2 linked regions of the Homo sapiens genome follow. Changing the gene in region 1 together with any one later gene gives a genetic interaction. Each region holds a gene or a part of one and is shown in the gene's direction. Other genes may lie near its edges.

Evidence for each region.
Region 2: changes in GAGE12D (region 1) and FLT3 together harm fitness less than expected from each alone (positive genetic interaction), as found in Homo sapiens cells (one study listed by BioGRID).

The regions. Positions count from the first base shown.
Region 1 is NC_000023.11:49,544,517-49,549,669, forward strand, and holds the end of GAGE12D (G antigen 12B/C/D/E), read left to right. Parts: intron 1-1,863; coding exon 1,864-1,989; intron 1,990-4,464; coding exon 4,465-4,487; 3' UTR 4,488-4,578; downstream 4,579-5,153.
Region 2 is NC_000013.11:28,097,286-28,104,569, reverse strand, and holds the start of FLT3 (receptor-type tyrosine-protein kinase FLT3 precursor), read left to right. Parts: upstream 1-3,993; 5' UTR 3,994-4,059; coding exon 4,060-4,102; intron 4,103-7,284. UniProt on the Homo sapiens protein: Tyrosine-protein kinase that acts as a cell-surface receptor for the cytokine FLT3LG and regulates differentiation, proliferation and survival of hematopoietic progenitor cells and of dendritic cells.

The DNA.
Region 1 (5,153 bases):
TGGGTGTCGTGACTGTAAGATTTCCATAGTCCTCAAATCCATCCAGCTAATCAATCCTTCAGAAACTGACATTGTAATTGTAACTGAAATCCTACCCACGTGGTAGACTTCAGATTTCTCAGCTGACGCACACTGCTGTTGGTACTCTAGGGCTGAATATAAGCATTATACATGTCCTGTGGTTTATCCTTAGATTGTCATTTAGGAGAAAGGTCTAAAGCTGGGCTGAATGCCATGCACTCATAGTCCCAGCTACTTGGGAGGCCGAGGTGAGAGGATTGCTTGAGTCCTGGAGTTCAAGCCCAGCCTGGGAAACACAGTGAGACCTCATTGCTAATAAATAAATAAATGAATAAATAAATAAACACATAAATAAATTCATTAAATAAATAAAGTTTTCATGGTATAGGAAAACACAGATGCAAAGTTTTTGTGCCTAGTGGCTGGTAATGTTGCAAACGTAACTCCTTAGTGAACTGTACCACTTAAAAATAGTTAAGATGGTAAATTTTAGGATATCTGTATTTTTTACCACAATTGGAAATTCCTTTCTTCCTAAAGTTCAGTGCAGTTATCATATATTCTTTTAAATTTTTACTGTATGTATCTTCAAGACATAACATTCATAGAAAATTTGCAAGAATAGTACAATGAACTCATATACTGTTCATCTGGATTCACCAATTGTTAGTAGCTTTCGCTTCATAGGTTTCACATCTCTTCCCTCCGTCTCTTACCGTGCTGCCCACACACTCACACACACACACACACACACACATACGGATATATGTTTACTGTTATTAATGGTGAATTGTCTCGATAAAGTTTCAGGGATTATGGTCCTTTACCCTATGTACTTGAGGGTGTGTATATCGTCAGAACAAAGAGAAAGTCATTTCTTGGATCATCACTGCACAAAGATAAAAATCAGGAAATTTAACAATGAGAAAATGGAGTCATTTAATACAGAGTGCATACTCAAATTTTGCCAGTTCCCCAGAAAATTTCTTTTTTCCTTTTTTTTTTCTTTGTTGAGACGGAGTCTCTCTCTGTGGGCCAGGTGGGAGTGCAGTAGTGCGATCTCGGCTCACTGCAACCTACACCTCCCAGGTTCTAGGGATTCTCATGCCTCAGCCTCCCGTGTAGCTGGGACTACAGGCGCCGGCCACTGCGGTCTTGAACTTCTGGCCTCACCTGCTCTGCCCACCTTGGCATCCCAAAATGTTTGGATTGCAGGCGTGAGACCCCACGCCCGGCCCAGATAATTTTATTGATAGGATTTCTTTTTCTGATCCAGAGTCCAGTTCAGAATCACACCTTGCATGTGCTTTTCAGGTGTTTTTAGTTTCCTTTAACCTGTAATGTTTCCTTAATTTTTCTTGTCATTCACGATACGGACATTTTTGGAGAGGATAGACCAGTTGGTTTGCAGAATATTCTGCAGTTTGGGCTTTTTCATGTATTTTTAAAAGAGTTTTCTCACTCAGCGTTTATTGGTGGCTACTCATGCCATGTAAGAGTCTAAGCGCTAGGAGTGTAAGTGCTGTGAGAGACGGGATTTGAGCCTTGAGTCATTTAATACGAGAAGGACAATCAGAAGTAGAATAAGAGAGAAGTGCAAAGGAGGCAGCAAAGTTGTCTGAGGGCAGTCTTCGGAAAGGAAGAGGGTATTATTTGGAACACCTTGTTTTCCTGTTTTCTGCTAATGGACTCCTGAAATAATGTTCCTGGGATTCTTATCAACACATTTATTATTACGTTAGCTAAAGCTTTTATATAATAATACCGAGAGCATGAATATTATTTTCTTATTCATACTTTATGTTTTACTGCTTAAATTGATACGTATTTTTTATTTTTAAGGGCCGAAGCCTGAAGCTCATAGCCAGGAACAGGGTCACCCACAGACTGGGTGTGAGTGTGAAGATGGTCCTGATGGGCAGGAGATGGACCCGCCAAATCCAGAGGAGGTGAAAACGCCTGAAGAAGGTAGGCAATCCATTAGGCATGCACATTGTAGGGTGTCTGTTTCCACAGTATCATATTGTAATTGTTACTATGTTTTTGAGACGGAGTCTCGCTCTGAAGACCAGGCTGGAGTGCAGTGGTGCCATTTCGGCTCACTGGAAATTCTGTCTCCAGGGTTCAAGTGATTCTCCTGCCTGAGCCTCTGGCGGAGCCGGGCTTACAGGCATGCTCCGCCGCGCCCAGCTAATTGTTGTATTTTTAGTAGAGACAGGGTTTCGTTATGTTGCACAGGTTGTTCCCGAACTCCTGACCTCAGGTGATCCACCTGCCTCGACCATTGAAATTGCCGGGATTACAGGCGAGAGCCACCGTGCCCGACCCAGCATTATATTTTTAATAACGGAGAGGTAACAATACTGCCTCTTTAGTAACAGAGTTCTTATATAAAGGTTATTTGAAACGTAGTTCAGGCCCCAGCACCCGACTGATAGACTGTCAGGTAGGGAAACAAACTGAGTCAAAGCTATGTTGAATTAAAAGTTTTGAGTGTAAATCCTTAAACCAGTAGCTCACAATTTTCAGATGCTTTTGTAAAGGTCTGCTTTTAATCAATACATAACACGTTTGTAACACCCATCACTTGGTGTGAAAAATGCTGAAGCACTCATGCGGGTTCTAATACCAGCTCTTACAGCCTTGGCGAGATTCTGAGTGAGTCCTTTCCCTTCTAAACCTATCTTTGGTTCTTATGAAAATAGTGAGTTTAAGTCAGAGATTTTAAAACCATTTTGCATTCCGTTTCTTTCATACTCTGATCCTGTTGCATAGAATGCGTGGGACACAGAGATCATCTGCTTCGCATGGTTTGTTAATCACAAATCATGAAACCCTGGCCCGAGTCATCTGAAAATCTCTGAATTGAGATTTCATTGTCAGTAAGACAGTGAGCCGGCCCTCTGCTTCATCCTAGTTTTTCCGTGTGGAGAGCTGAATACGTAGTGTAAGATCTTGTGAAATTGTGAATTCTCCCTCTTCTTGGTTTGTTTGTTTGTTTGCGACAGAGTCTCAGTGTGTCACCCAGGCTGGAGTGCAGTGATGCAATTTCAGCTCACTGCAACTTCTGGCTCCCAGGCTAAAGCCGTCCTCCCACCTCAGCCTCCCGAGTGGCTGGAACTACATGCACAAGCCACCGTGCCTGACTACATTTTTTTGTTTTCATTTTTGTAGAGATGAGGTCTCACTGTGTTGCCCAGGCAGGGTTTCTCTGGCTTTTAATGAACAATTGCTTCTTTTTTTTTCTTTTATTTATTTATTTATTTATTTATTTATTTATTTATTTATTTATCATTATACTTTAAGTTTTAGGGTACATGTGCACGTTGTGCAGGTTAGTTACATATGTATACATGTGCCATGCTGGTGCGCTGCACCCACTATCTCATCATCTAGCATTAGGTACATCTCCCAGTGCTATCCCTCCCCCCTCCCCCCACCCGACAGCAGTCCCCAGGGTGTGATATTCCCCTTCCTCTGTCCATGTGATCTCATTGTTCAGTTCCCACCTATGAGTGAGAATATGCGGTGTTTGGTTTTTTGTTCTTGCAATAGTTTACTGAGAATGATGATTTCCAGTTTCATCCATGTCCCTACAAAGGACATGAACTCATCATTTTTTAGGGCTGCATAGTATTCCATGGTGTATATGTGCCACATTTTCTTAATCCAGTCTATCGTTGTTGGACATTTGGGTTGGTTCCAAGTCTTTGCTATCGTGAATAATGCCGCAATAAACATACGTGTGCATGTGTCTTTATAGCAGCATGATTTATAGTCCTTTGGGTATATACCCAGTAATGGGATGGCTGGGTCAAATGGTACAATTGCTTCTTAAAACTTTCCCCACGGAAACCTTGAGTGACTGAAATAAATATCAAATGGCGAGAGACCGTTTAGTTCGTATCATCTGTGGCATGTAGGTCAGTGATGCTCAGCATGGGTGTGAGTAAGATGCCTGTGCTATGCATGCTCCCTGCCCCACTGTCAGTCTTCATGAGCCACTATTTCTAATAAGACTGTAGACACACATACGATATAATCATCTCTAATCATATCAAATGTTACATGTAAGTTTCACCTTTAGAGACATGAATTGATAAGATTTGAAGTTGAAAGACCATGACTCTAGTACTTCCTGAGTAATCAACTGAAGTATGCTTTACGCATGTGTTTTCCAAATTGCTGACTGTTAATTGTAAGTGCTTGTGACTTGAAAGGAAGCACTTGATGTTCAGGGAGGAAATTCCTTTTAAATTCTGCAGGTCTACGCTCAAAGTTAATGCAGAGGTTCAATTGCGTGTAAGACACGGGATCTCCCATAGGGTTCTGTTTTTAGTCCATTTAATAAAACCCAAACTGTAGTGTGCTTTGTATGCCTTTAGGGTCATCTGAATAATCTGTTGCTAAGTCATGTTCCCAATCGTTGTGTTTCTGTTACAGGTGAAAAGCAATCACAGTGTTAAAAGAAGACACGTTGAAATGATGCAGGCTGCTCCTATGTTGGAAATTTGTTCATTAAAATTCTCCCAATAAAGCTTTACAGCCTTCTGCAAAGAAGTCTTGCGCATCTTTTGTGAAGTTTATTTCTAGCTTTTTGATGCTGTGAAATATGTATCATTCTTTGAAATCGTGTATTGTAACTCTCTGAGCTGGTATGTAGAGACATCGTTCTTTTTTTTTCTTTTTTTCTTTGTCCTCTTTTGAGACGGAGTCTTGCTCTGTCGCCCAGGCTGGAGTGCAGTGGCGCGATCTCTGCTCACTGCAACCCCGCCTCCCGGATTCAAGCAATTGTCTGCCTCAGCCTCCCGAGTAGCTGGGATTATAGGCACCCACCAGCACGCCTGGCTAAGTTTTGTGTTTTTACTAGAGATGGGCTTTCGCCATCTTGGCCGGGGTGCTCTTGAACTCCTGACCTCGTGATTCACCTGCCTTGGCCTCCCAAAGTGCTGGGATTACAGGCATGAGCCTCCGTGCCCGGTGGAGACATAATTCTTACATATTGGTTTTCTATCCAGCGGCCTTGTGAAATATGCTTGTGAATTCTAAAGTTTACTTCTAGGTCGTTTTCAGTCTTCAATATACAGAAACATATCATCCTGGAATAAGAGCAGTTTTGTTTCCGCCATATT
Region 2 (7,284 bases), on another chromosome or scaffold:
TGTCAACACTTTGTATTGTCAGATTTTGCCAATTGGTGAGTTCAAAGCCCCTATTAATAAAAGATGTGTAAAATTATACTATAAAGTTGATATCTCAACTGAACTCACATGAACCCTATTCAAATATTCCTTTTGTTTGTCCCTGATTTTCAGGAAAACATAAGGCTTTGTAAGTTAAAAATGACATGAAAGTATTTCACCTGTGAGCTGCTACGAAACTATGTCACAATTTTTGGAGAGAGAGAGGAAAGGGAGAGGAGATATTTGTGTGACTTAAGGGGTGGAAACATGGTATCAAGATGCTGGTAAGATAGATGACCACTTACTCATGGCTAAGCATCATGGTGCTAAGAATCTAGATAAAATACATCCTTTCGTAGAGTTAGCACTAGACACTCCATTCAACCCAGAAACAAACTTACTCTTCTCTTTTCCGATTTCCCGTTTCAGCTCATTTCTTCTAGTTGCTTTTGACCCTTTAAGAGTTTCTTTATTACAGAATTCCTATCATGAACTCTGACACCAAAATTTCATACTTGGGCATGCATACCTGGGCGTGTAATCCAGGACTCTAGACAATTTCAGGCTACTTTCCTTAAGTGTTGCTGTGAGGAAGAAATTAGTTCTCATATTAGATATGACTCTTGGCACATCACAGAAAAACATGGGCATTACTTCACCTTCTGTTAGCCTATACCTCATACTCCAAAATATTTCAGTCTATAAGATTTGCTCCTTCTAGAATTATTTTTTCCACCAATTTCCACGGAAAATCAAGTGTTCCTAGAAACCATTCCTGGCTGGCCGCGGTGACTCACACCTGTAATCCCAGCACTTTGGGAGTCCAAGGAGGGTGGATCACGAGGTCAGGAGTTTGAGACCAGCCTGGCCAAGATGGTGAAACCCTTCTCTACTAAAAATACAAAATTAGCTGGGCGCAGTGGCGGGTGCCTGTAATCCCAGCTACTCAGGTGGCTGAGGCTGGAGAATCGCTTGAACCCGGGAGGCGGAGGTTGTAGTGAGCCTAGATCGTGCCACTGCACTCTAGCCTGGGCGACAGAGCAAGACTCTGTCTCAAAAAAAGAAACCATTCCTAACTTCTCCTCTCTCACCAACCCCCTTTTTCATGAAGATCTCTGCCTTGTGTCCAAGATTCTTGGACAAAGCAGCAGTATCTTTATGATTTTGTATCCTGAATACTGCTGCACTCAAGCTGATGTTCTGCAAATTTGTAATAATCAGTTTCATTTTTTTTTTAGTTTTTCATTTTATTTATTTATTTTTTTGAGACGGAATCTCCCTCTGTCGCCCAGGCTGGAGTGTAGTGGCGCGATCTTGGCTCACTGCAACCTCCGCTCCCCAAGTTTAAGCAATTCTCTGCCTCAGCCTCCTGAGTAGCTGGGATTACAGGCGTATGCCACCACGCCTGGCTAATTTTTTGTATTTTTAGTAGAGACAGGTTTCACCATCTTTGCCAGGCTGGTCTTGAACTCCTGACCTCGTGATCCACCTGCCTTAGCTTCCCAAAGTGCTGGGATTACAGGCATGAGCCACTACGCCCGGCGAAGACCAAGTCTTGCTCTGTTGCCCAGGCTGGAGTGCAGTGGCATGATCTCAGTTCACTGCAACATCTGCTTCCTGGGTTCAAGCAATTCCCCTGCCTCAGCCTCCCAAGTAGCTACGACTACAGTGCCACCATGCCCAGCTAATTTTTGTATTTTTGTTAGAGATGGGGTTTCACCATGTTGGTCAGGCTGGTCTCCAACTCCTGACCTCAAATGATCCACCCGCTTTGGCCTCCCAAAGCGCTGGGATTGCAGGCATGAGCCACAGCGCCCAGCCAATCAGTTTCCTTTAAGACAGTAATTGAGCTTTAAATAGAAGGTAGTGTGTTAGGTCTTGGCCATTGGAAGCTCGCTTTTCTCCCCATAACCAGCCTGTTTCATTGCTTTATCTCCTCATGTTTCACTTATTTCAGGCCATCTTCCTTCACTTCTGTTTCTGACCTAAGGTAGACACAACACTCTTTAAAAAAATTTTTAAACCCCCAGCAGCTACACAAAAACTTAAAAAATTTAAAATTGAGGTAAAATACACATACATAAAATTTACCATCTTAACTTTTTGTTTTTGTTTTTGTTTTTGAGACAGAGTCTCACTCTGTCACCCAGGCTGGAGTGCAGTGGTGTGATCTCAGCTCACTGCAGCCTCTGCCTCCCGGGTTCCAGTGATTCTCCTGCCTCAACCTCCCAGGTAGCTGGGATTACAGGCATGCGCCACTACGCCTGGCTAATTGTTGCATTTTTGTAGAGATGGGGTTTCACCATGTTGGCTAGGCTGGTCTCGAACTGCTGACCTCAGGTGATCTGCCCACCTCGGCCTCCCAAAGTGCTAGGATTACAGGCATGAGCCACCGCACCCAGCCTTAGCCATTTTTAAGTGTACAGTTTAGTAGCGTTAAGTACATTCACATTGTTGTGCAACCAGTCTCCAGAACTCTGCTCATCTTGCAAAACTGAAACTCTGTATCCATTAAACACTGGCTCCCCATTTCCCCCTGCCCCCAGCCCATGGTAACCACCATTTAACTTTCTGTCTTTATGAATTTGTAATGGGATACAGTATTGTATTTTTTGGGACTAGCTTATTTCACTTAGCATAATGTCAAGATTCATCCATATTTTAGCTGTATCAGAATTTCCCTCCTCTTTAAAGCTGAAAAATACTCAGTCGTATGTATATACTGCATTTTTGTTTATCATTCATCTGTTGTGGACATGGGTTACTTCTGCCTTTTGACTACTGTGAATAATGCTGCTTTCAACACGGGTGTACAGACATCTCTTCAAGACCCTGCTTTCAATTCTTTTGGCTACATGGCCAGAAATGGAATTGTTGGACCGTATTTTTTTTAATTTTTTGAGAAACCTCTATAGTGTTTTCCATAGTGGCTGCACCATGGTAGACACTTCTAAAGTTTCTGCCATACCCTAGGGGAAAGAATTATTGTACTGTAGACAACATCTAAGGAAAAGAACTGTATGGCCAAGAGTAAACAGTCAATTTTCATGCTTTATTAGAAAATAATTAAAATAATTAAGAGCGTGGAATTCCTAGAATTGGGAGAGACATTATGAACCATTTGGTCCATCCCTTTCCTTTACGATGAGTAAACAGAGGTTTGTGGAGGTCAAACGGCTAGTTAAGTAAGGGAAGAACCAGAACTGGCATCCAGAGCTTTCCAATCCTCAACTTATTGCAAAGAAAATAATAATAATTTTCAACTCGAAAAATTATGCGATGAAGAACAAGAACTATTGAGCGGATGATTCGCAACATCCTCTGGGATGTATTTTCTGTGTGTTTTGTTTTGAAGGCTGTTTGTTAACCTCCCTAATTGCCTTGGTTGACATTGAAACCCTGCCTGTTTTTCTTGATCCCGCCGCTGACTGGGTCCTGAGCATCCTAGGAGATGGAGGCAGAGACAAAGGAAATCAGTCCACAATTAAGAATGGAATGGTTCTTAATGGAATGCTCGCCTGTGCGCTGGCGGGAGTTGCCAGCGTGCCGAGCGGATTCAGCGCCTTTCTCAGGGCCTCAAAGATCCCAGCGCACTAGGAGGGTGGTTTGTGGCTCCCTGCAGTCCCCACGCCCCGGATCCAAACGACAGAGTTCGGGGACTCACAGGGGCAGCAAGGCGGCAGAGCCGCGGAGCCAGTGCAACTTCTCCGGCGGGACCGCGCCCAATCTTCCCCGCCGCAGTCGGGGAGCCCCGGGGGCCGCCGAGCACAGGCTGCGGACCGCGGCGGGCACGTGGGCTCGGCTGCAGCGCTGCGCCAGGCACCGGCTGCTCGGCTCTGCCCAACCTCTCCGCTCCCGCCTCGGTCCCTGCCTCTGGGGAGAGGGTTCCTCCCCCCTTCCACTTTGCACCAGTCCGAGGGAATTTGCGGTCGGTGACGCGCATCCTTAAGAGAGCCACCTGCAGCGCGAGGCGCGCCGCTCCAGGCGGCATCGCAGGGCTGGGCCGGCGCGGCCTGGGGACCCCGGGCTCCGGAGGCCATGCCGGCGTTGGCGCGCGACGGCGGCCAGCTGCCGCTGCTCGGTAAGGCCCCGCTCGCTCGCTCGCAGCCCCTCGCGGTCCCTCAGCCCCCACCCCGCAGTGTGGACCCGGGCGCGCGCCTCCTCCGGCCCAGCCGCCTCGCTCCTCCCCGCGCTCGCTCCTTCCATTGCCTCCCGCGCCCCTCCCCTCTTTCGCGCCCTCCGGACTCGCCCACTACTTGCCTGCGGCCCCGGCGTTTCCCACCCCGCGTCCTCTTCCCTCTTCTCCGAAGTCTCTCCTCTGGCTCGGGCCGCGGTCCCGAGTGGCGGCCCGGACTTCGCAGACGGCCTCGCCGAGGCGCTGCGCCGGGTCTGGGGCAGCTCGGCCCGCGCGCTCGGGTGCTGGGCCGTCCGTGGGAGTCTGCGGCCGCGAACTCGGCGCCAGGTGGCCAAGGACCTCTCCTGGCCCGGCCCTTGGATACTGTAGACACCTGGGTGTCGTCTTTAACTCTTCTTTTGAGGTTTTGATTTATGGAGGGAACTCTGATGGGAAAATGCGTCCGCGTTCTCCCCTAGAGCGAGTCATCCTCAATAACGATACCCCCCAGCCCCGCCGAATTTTGGTTGGATCAACGAATAGTTTACCTAGGAAATATTATGCAAACAGATTTACATATTAAAATACTAGCTGTCCCTTTCTTCTAGTCTCTTCTTATCCTGGCATAAACCCCAAAGGGGTTTTCAAGGACTCCGAGGACTGTCCCCAAAGAATCTGCTGGGTAGCATAGTTGTTATTGAAAAAAAAAATCTTCCCATCGGTTCGCGTCAGCTTTCTATTTGGAAAGATGAGAGGACTGAATCGAATTTGGGTTGAAGGCGACAGAGTTCTGGGTGCCCGGCAGCTCCGGTCCCTGTCCTAGGTCTGCAACCTTGGGACTGACACTCACCTCCCCCGGCCTCCGCGTCCTCATCTGTGCAGTGAGGGAGTCCGTCCGAGTCCCCTTCAGCTCTGAAATGCTAGGACTTGAAGTCTCTGTGGTAAATAGAGAAAATGCTTGCAATATAGAAGTGCAGGAATTATATCCAATAGCTTTTGTTACAAATAATTCTGAAATATAAAAAGTAAAAAATGGAAATCGGGGGAAAAGAGTTGAAAAACAAAGACATTTTAGTTCTTAAATAGTTATCTTTACTAGTTAGTAAATCTGTAATTTCAAATGTGTAGTACAATATGTTTTCCAGATTCCGTTAATACAAAATGTTAGCTTTCTATTATGTATGATATTAAGTAGTAAGTGCATTTTTCAGAAGCATAATGGGCTTTCTAAAGGTATAAGCATCAATACTTGCAACGATATTTAAGCTGCATGGAATTCTTTTCTATTTAGGAAAGAATTCAGAAATTTCTATGTCTCTCTCTCCAGATATTTCTAAATGAAGTATAATTGGCACACAGTAAATATGCACACATCTTAAGAGTACAATTTCATTAGTTTTCACATATGTACGTGCCCAAATAACCACGATCAGACTGAGATATAGAGCAATTCTAGCTCCACCCTCTCTGTCAGTACCCCCTCCCCAGGTAGCCACTATTCTGACTTCTGATGCCATGGATTGCTTTTGCCTATGTTTGAACTTCATGTAAACCAAACCATCATCGTGTGCTCTTTTATGTCCACCTTCTTTTACTCAACATTATAATAATAAGATTCAACCTTGTTCTCTGTAGCAGTGTTTTTTTTTTTAATTGCTGGTACCATTCCGTGGTATGAATAGATCTTATAATTTATTTTATCCATTATGTTCACGAAGCACATGGAAGTTGTTCCAATTTTGTGTAATTATGCATAGCACTGCTGTGAACATTGTTTTATATATGGTGGACATAAACACCAGTATAAAGGATTATGCCCACAAGTAGAATTCCTGGATCATAGGGAAGGGATATGTTCAGGTTTGGTAGATACCGTCAAACGGTTTTCCACAGTGGTTACACCAATTTCCACTCCCACTAGCAGTGTATGGCAGTTCCAGTTCCTCACATCTTTGCCAATACTTTGTATTATGGATTTTCTTGAATAAAGAAGGATAAAGTGAGAAGCTTAAACATGAGAACTTTAAAATGGTTAATAGCCTTAAATTCTTTGAATTAGAACATGGGATCCCAATTTCCCTTATATTGTAAACACTACTTTTTTTTTTTTTTTTTTTTTTGAGACGGAGTCTTGCTCTGTCACCCAGGCTGGAGTGTAGTGGCGCGATCTCAGCTCACTGCAACCTCCGCCTCCCAGGTTCAAGCGATTCTCCTGCCTCAGCCTCCTGAGTAGCTGGGATTACAGGTGCGTGCCACCGCACCCAGCTAATTTTTGTATTTTTAGTAGAGACGAGGTTTCACCATGTTGGCCAGGCTGGTCTCGAACTCCTGACCTTAGGCGATCCACCCACCTCAGCCTCCCAAAGCGCTGGGATTACAGGTATGAGCCACCACACCCGGCCATGCCCAGACTTCTATTCATCATTTATGAATAATGATGAAGCTTTCTAAGTGGCATTTGAAGGAGAGGAACATGTTCCCAATGGGCTTTTCTGCATTATCTGCTGATACTGGACAGAGAGAAGTATTTCAATATTTTAAGAGCTATGATACTACCTTTTTCATTAGTGTTAAAAAAAATTCGTATTCAAAGCCTTGAACTGCACATTTGAGTTGCCATTCTTTGCTCTTGTTGCTTATCTTAGTTTATTTGCCTTCTTGGAAACTCCTAGCCCAAGGGGGAATGATTCAGGAGAAAGTGGAGGGAAGGGACACTCAGCAAAGCTTGGTTTGGATTGGATGTGAGCCCAGACCTGCCGACCTGACATTAATGTCCCCTCTGACTCTGAAACTCTAGTTCTAATTTTTGCCATTATATAGGTGTAGATTGGATATTCATTTCTTTTTAGGTACTTCACGTCTATCTATAGTAAATTATCCTCTTAGGTTTAATTGTGAACTTCTTGCCTTACATTAAAAATGGATTAACTTTTTATAACTAAGAAGGCACTTTCAGTAACTCTTAGCTATTGGTAAATATTTGTTATTGGATTCTCCTGTTGTTTAAACTGAAAAACAATCAGGCAATGAGATATTAAATGGGAAGGAGGAAGACTTACTTATATTCCAAGGGAAGACTTCAGATAAGAAAAATGAAGAGAAAACATGCATTAGGAAGAAAAAATCTGTTTTTATTTAACAAACTTTAA